Homo sapiens: one gene and its partner. The protein of the gene in region 1 purifies or fractionates together with the protein of each later gene. This does not show direct contact. Each region holds a gene or a part of one and is shown on either strand. Other genes may lie near its edges. The genes, in order: NSG2 and CCDC51.

What was found.
Region 2: the proteins of NSG2 (region 1) and CCDC51 purify together in Homo sapiens (affinity purification with mass spectrometry; one large-scale study listed by BioGRID and IntAct). This does not show direct contact.

The regions. Positions count from the first base shown.
Region 1 is NC_000005.10:174,101,206-174,104,705, forward strand, and holds part of NSG2 (neuronal vesicle trafficking-associated protein 2), read left to right. Parts: intron 1-3,022; coding exon 3,023-3,133; intron 3,134-3,500.
Region 2 is NC_000003.12:48,431,167-48,434,410, reverse strand, and holds the end of CCDC51 (mitochondrial potassium channel), read left to right. Parts: intron 1-434; exon of another isoform or gene 435-539; coding exon 540-704; intron 705-1,244; coding exon 1,245-2,003; 3' UTR 2,004-2,238; downstream 2,239-3,244.

The DNA of each region.
Region 1 (3,500 bases):
CACCACTTAGGAAATTGGCTCCCTGTCCCTAGGGCAGAGCTGCAGGTGCCAGGATGCTGCCTGAACTCTGGGCATTTATTTTTAAAAACTAAGAGAAAACTCGTGTAACATAAACATAATGACTTTAAAGTGAGCAGTGCAGTGGCATTTAGTGCATCCATAATGTTGTGCAACCATCACCTCTGTCTAGTTTCAAAATGTTTTCATCACACCAAAAGGAAACCCTATACCCCTTATCAGTCATTCCCCATTCCCCCAGACCCCCTAGTCCTAGCGGGCTCCAGTCTGCACCTGCCTCTGTGCATTTCCTCATTCTGGGAGTCTCATCAGATGGAATCACATGACATGTGGCCATTGGCGTCTGGGTTCTTTGGCTCAGCATCACGTTTGAAGGGCCGTCTGCATCTGCAGCTGGTCCTTCATTCCCTTTCATGGCTGAATAACATTCCGCTGCATGGATAGACCACAATTTGTTTATTCATTCATCAGCAGATGGAAATTTGGGCTGTTTCTACCTTTTGGCTATTGGGAAATCTGAGCATTTAAAATTTTTTTATATCTCTACTCCAAACACATGTTGATCATGTGTTCCTAGGTCCTCAGCATTTGTGAGTCGTGGTCTTGGGTGGCCTCCTTTCCTGTACTATTCAAATAGGAGTTTCCTAGGGTGCATATGTGTCTTCATGGTATCTCTTGCTTTAAGTCCAACTTCTCTTGATTTCTCCACCTCAGCTCCACCTCTTGCCTGTGTGATACCGGACTGATCTCTGCACCATCTCATCCCATACTGTTATCACTCCAATCCAGGGCAGGAGGCTGATAAGCATGCAACAGGCTTCAACTTCTGGCTTGGGGTAATGGAGAGAATGGACAGCACATGGTGTCAACAGTAGCTTAAAATTGAATGTTACACAGTACTGTCCTAAAACTTCATATACACACTCATTAGGAATTGCTCATGGACGGTGTCTGCCCATGAGATTTGGACAGAATCCTCCCGACATCCATCTTCCTCTTTTCCTTTTCAAATTCCTCCCGTCCAGTATTTAAAACTGCCAACAGACAACTCCATATTTTTGGAGCAATGTAAACTCCTGTCTCCTCCTTTCCTTATAAACATGCCCTGGGGTGGGAAAGAGATGGCATGGGCACTCCCAAAGTTAATTTTACTCTTTTTCTGAATCAAAAGGAACCTTTCCTCCATGAGAAGAATCCTGCCATATTTCTAGGCCAACTGACTGAAAGGGACACCAGCTTTAAAAAATAACACACACACAAATTCTGCTTGTAATATTAGATGCCCCGGTATCATGGGGACTTCCCTGCCCCCTTGTACATAGATGGTGGGATGGGGTCAGTGCAAGCCTAGAGGTGCCTCTGAAGTTAACCAATTACTGGTTTCAGATGAATCCTGATGGTGCCCCCACTTTGTTTGGTGTTGTATTATTTTTTTTAAAGGTTGCTTTCAGATAGTGGATAGGAACTGGGTTATATTTAAGCTGGAGACCACTGCAGGCTTTCGAGCAGAAAAGGGCCATGCTTTGTTTTTTTTATTTATTTATTTATTTATTTATTTATTTATTTATTTATTTAGATGGAGTCTCACTCTGTCACCCAGCCTGGAGTGCTGTGGCACAAGCTCGGCTCACTGCAGCCTCCTCCTCCCAGGTTCAAGCAATTCTCCTGCCTCAGCCTCCCCAGTAGCTGGGATCACAGGTGCCTGCCACCACCCTGGCTTTTTTTTTTTTTTTTTTTGTATTTTTAGTAGAGATGGGCTTTCACCATATTGGGCAGGCTGGTCACGAACTCCTGACCTCAAGTGATCTTCCTACCTCGGCCTCCCAAAGTGCTGAGATTACAGGTGTGAGCCACTGCACCTGGCCCCTGCTTTGTTTTAGATTTTACAAAGCTCTCTCTGGTTGCTGTGTGCTGAATACACCCTAGAGGACAAGGAAGTCGTCACTAGTTAGAAGGCTGTTAGATGCTGTAGGTGAGAGATGATGATGGCTTCCACCCGGTTGGACATGATTGAGGTGGTAAAAAGTGGTCAGATTATGGGTGTATTTGAAGGCAGAAATGATCGTTTCTTCTGGTAGATTGGATGTGGTGTTTGAGAAAAAGGGAGTCATGGATGACTTCAGGATATTTGGCCTGAGTGACTGCAAATGTGAAATTGACATATTCTGAGATGAAGAAGAATGCAGGTGGAGCAGGTTTGAGTTGGGAGGAGAGCAGGAATCCTGTTTGGGAATGTGTTGAAAGTGTGTATTAGATGTCCAAGTAGAGGCGAAAGAAGCAGTTGATGTCCGAGGTTGCAATGCACCAGTGCTGGGGCGCGGTGGGGATGTAAAGCAGGAAGCACTGGAAGTGACAGCTTAATGATCAACTCCCCCACATCCCACATAGTTATCAGGAAAAGGAAAATGAGGGGGAAATCACATGTTAAATCAGAAAGGAGTGGTCGGGTGCAGTGGCTCATGCCTGTAATCCTAGTACTTTGAGAGGCCGAAGCAGGTGGATCACCTGAGGTCAGGAGTTCAAGACCAGCCTGGCCAACATGGTGAAACCCTGTCTCTACTAAACCCTGTCTCTACTAAAAAATACAAAAATTAGCCAGGTGTGGTGGTGGGTACCTGTAATCCCAGCTACTCGGAAGGCTGAGGCAGGGAGAAGCACTTGAACCTGGGAGGTGAAGGTTGCAGTGAGCTGAGATGGTGCCATTGCACTCCACCTCTCCAGCCTGGGTGACAGAGTGAGACTCCATCTCACAAAAACAAACAAATAAACAACAACAAAAAAAACCAAAACAAAAAAAATGGAGCTTCAGAGATTATCCTGCAGAAGGGGGAAAGAGGCCCAAAGACTGCAAGTTAGTAACAAAGCCAAGACAGAGCCAGTTCCTTGGGCCTGTCCCCCTTTCTAGCACACCATGCTGCCTGCCAGTTCTAGGCTCTGAAAGCTGCATACGGGGACTGAAGGTGGGCAGACTGAGGCTGGATGACTTAATTTTGTATTCCTCCAGGTCACCATCCTTGTCAGCCTGGCCCTAGCTTTCCTTGCGTGCATCGTGTTCCTGGTGGTTTACAAAGCCTTCACCTATGATCACAGCTGCCCAGAGGGATTCGTCTATAAGGTAAGAGGTGGTTGAGTAGTCCCAGGTCACTATCAAATTCAGTTAGAGGGTTGATCAATGTCTTCTCTTCACTGGTGTCCAAATTCTGGGTATGACGACCTCTCTACCGACTGTTTAAAATGGAATATGTGTTTGGCAAGGAGTTTCCAAGTTTTCTTGAGGGACTCAGTCTCCAGTAAGCAGTAGAGTTCCTCCCCCAAGATGGTGCTCTCCAGGGTCAGGAGGTGGTCCAGCTTGGACGGCACATCAGCAATGAGGGAAGCAGCTCACTACCTCTTGACATGGACTGTTCCATTTTGGGAAAGCTCGGCTTGGTGCGGGTCTTCCTGGCTCAATGGCTGTTTGCTTACCCTTGCAGTGGCCTTCC
Region 2 (3,244 bases), on another chromosome or scaffold:
TGTGGTGGCAGAAATGCATTCTGTCATCTCTGTTCCCACTCCTGCTTAGGCATGTAGTAGTGTAGCGTGGTGGGAAGAACCTGGGGTTCAGCTGGGACTTTGAGACAAACAGTGCCATCTCTTTCCTTGGAGATTGTGAGCTTGGCTGAGCTGGTGTTTCTGGGTTTATAAACTGGAGGCCACAGCAGTGCCTTTCATGGCATTGTTATAAGGCATAAATAAGGCAACACACGGGAAACAGCCTACCAACACAGGTTTGATGGACACAAATTGTGTGCATTGTTAGCTGTTTTCAAGTTTTTTCAGGGGCATGTTATTTCTGCTTGAATGGCTAAATCTCGTGATTCTGATGGGTGTGGCCCAAGGCTGCACTTTGAGCACCACTGGGTGAGCCAGGATTAGTGTCTAAGGAATTCCGTTTCCACCCTTTGCAGCTCACACCCCAGTGACCTCTTCTGGGAATGCCTTGCTGGGAATGCAGCTGAGCCTGTGTGGGTGTGGAGAGAAGGTGCAGATGGCCTCCGGTTTTCTCTTTGCAGGCTGAGAAAGTGTTCATGGTGGCTCGAGGGCTTGTCCGAGAGGCTCGGGAGGACTTGGAAGTTCACCAGGCCAAGCTGAAGGAGGTGAGGGACCGCTTGGACCGTGTCTCCAGGGAGGACAGTCAGTACTTGGAACTGGCTACTCTCGAGCACAGGATGCTGCAGGTAGGCACCTCAGGAGGCAGCCCTTTCGCACCTGGACAGTGACCCTAGCCTGGCAGATCATGGAGGGGCCGGGTGGGAACCCTGACTGGTCTGTAGTCAGAGGCCTGGTACAGAGGTGAGCCAGAAGCTCCTATGGATGGACAGAACCCCAAGCTTCCAGAGTCTATCCATATACTTTCTTCTGGAGTACTGGGGCCAACTCTTCAGGGCAGCGTAGCCTGGGACTCAGAATGCTGAGGAAGGAGAACTATGGAGGGGCTGGCCTAGGGAGTGCTGGACACTTCCCTTTGTGTAGACATAAGTGCACCTCTGGTCAAACCCAGAACTGCTCAGGTGGGACGATCATGCAACTCACTTTGATCACTCCCAATTCCTTTGCCCTTCTGACCCAGCCAGGTTGGTGCTACCTTCATTCATTCAGCATGGGTCTATGGAACATGTACTCTGCCAGGCACAAGGTAGTGAGCCATCTGCTGGTGGCTATAGCTGCAGGGCCACCTTGTGCCCATGTAATCCAATAACATGGCTTTGCTTCTGCAGGAGGAGAAGAGGCTTCGCACAGCCTATCTGCGTGCAGAAGACTCTGAGCGAGAGAAGTTCTCCCTCTTCTCTGCAGCTGTGCGGGAAAGTCATGAGAAGGAGCGCACAAGGGCTGAGAGGACCAAGAACTGGTCCCTCATTGGCTCAGTCCTGGGGGCCCTGATTGGTGTGGCTGGCTCCACCTATGTGAACCGTGTGCGACTACAGGAGCTGAAGGCTTTACTCCTGGAGGCGCAGAAGGGGCCTGTGAGTCTCCAAGAGGCCATTCGAGAACAGGCGTCTAGCTACTCCCGCCAGCAGAGGGACCTCCACAATCTCATGGTGGACCTGAGGGGCCTGGTACATGCTGCTGGGCCAGGGCAGGACTCTGGGTCACAGGCAGGTAGTCCCCCGACCAGAGACAGAGATGTAGATGTCCTTTCAGCTGCCTTGAAAGAGCAGCTTAGTCATTCCAGGCAAGTCCATTCATGTCTAGAAGGCTTACGAGAGCAGCTTGATGGCCTAGAAAAGACTTGTAGCCAAATGGCTGGGGTGGTTCAGCTTGTAAAGTCTGCAGCACACCCAGGCCTGGTGGAACCAGCAGACGGGGCTATGCCCAGCTTCTTGCTGGAGCAGGGGAGCATGATCTTGGCACTGTCAGACACGGAGCAGAGACTAGAAGCCCAAGTCAACAGGAACACCATCTATAGCACCCTGGTCACCTGTGTGACATTTGTGGCCACACTGCCTGTGCTCTACATGCTATTCAAAGCCAGCTAACCCCTGGCCCCTCCTCCAGAGGGTCTGAGGCAATAGCTGTGAATGTGGATTTAAGTAGAGAATCGTAGCAATGAAGCGAGCCTTTGGGGGCATGTACAACCTCAATCTGAAGGAGCAGTATCTGTGTGGCTCACCAGCAGGCATGCTTCGCTTTGTAGACAAGGTTCATTTACATTAATTATCAAAACTTTGTGCTAATGTCCAATTAAAATATCCTGAGTTTTATTATTTAAAACAATCAGACTGAGTTTTTTTCATTAAGAATCAAGATCCAAGACTTGAAGGTTGGGCCTGGAGTTGGGGTAGTCACCCCCTTTAGTTCCTCTCTCATCTCCTCTCTGTCCTCTTTTCTGAACTGTTATGGATGCACTCCTGAGGCCTAGATTTTCATTTTGGATTTCCTCCAGTTACCTGACTGTCCGGTGTCAGATGGCCTGGGAGTTCCAGTGAGTGGAACCTAGCCTGCTGCCTACTCATTTCGTGACCATGGTTGCTTCCCATCTCCTGGATCACTTTCTCTACCATGTGGGGGAGAACTTCCTGGTTCTAGTACTGGAGGAGTGATCAGAGGAGAGCAGGGAAGGGAGATTGGGAGAATGGTTGATAAATGTTGCTGGGGACATAAGTATAGGGATTGGTGGCCAGTCTGGATCCCTGGTACAGAGATTGCTTTGGGCAGCAGTGGTGTGCCACGGGGGCTGGGTGCACACCCCCACACAGCCCGGGGATATCTTCCACAGGCATAGGCAGAGCTCAGGACACCGGGAGTGTGCATGGAGAGGCAGTGATAGGGAGGGGGGGGTCTCCCACAGGTGGGAGGTGCAGTGGGGCATATGTATGATCTCTTTTCAGAGGGGAACAGTGACCCTTGACCTTGACTAAATGGCCATGGGTGGCCTTGTGTGCCCTGAGTAAACAGGAGCTTTGGGCTGGTATTCAGTCCTGGTGTTGGAGTATTGGAAGTCAGGCACATTCCAGAGAACCCACTCCCCTTTGAGAGCGCAGGGTAGCTATATGCAGGGGGGCCGCAGGTGGGGACTCGTTCACTGGTGCCTGTGCAGAGCTCTCAGAGCCTGTGGAGTCAGGAGTGTTTCCCATAAGGCATACTTTCTTCTTGGAGCCTGTGTTCAGTCTTGGGCAGTGAGCATGGCCCAAATGCCCCCCACCCCAGGTTCTCAGCACCTGGTCCCTCAGTCAATCTATCCTTGGCGAGTAATGGCTCCCCAGAATGGCATGGGATG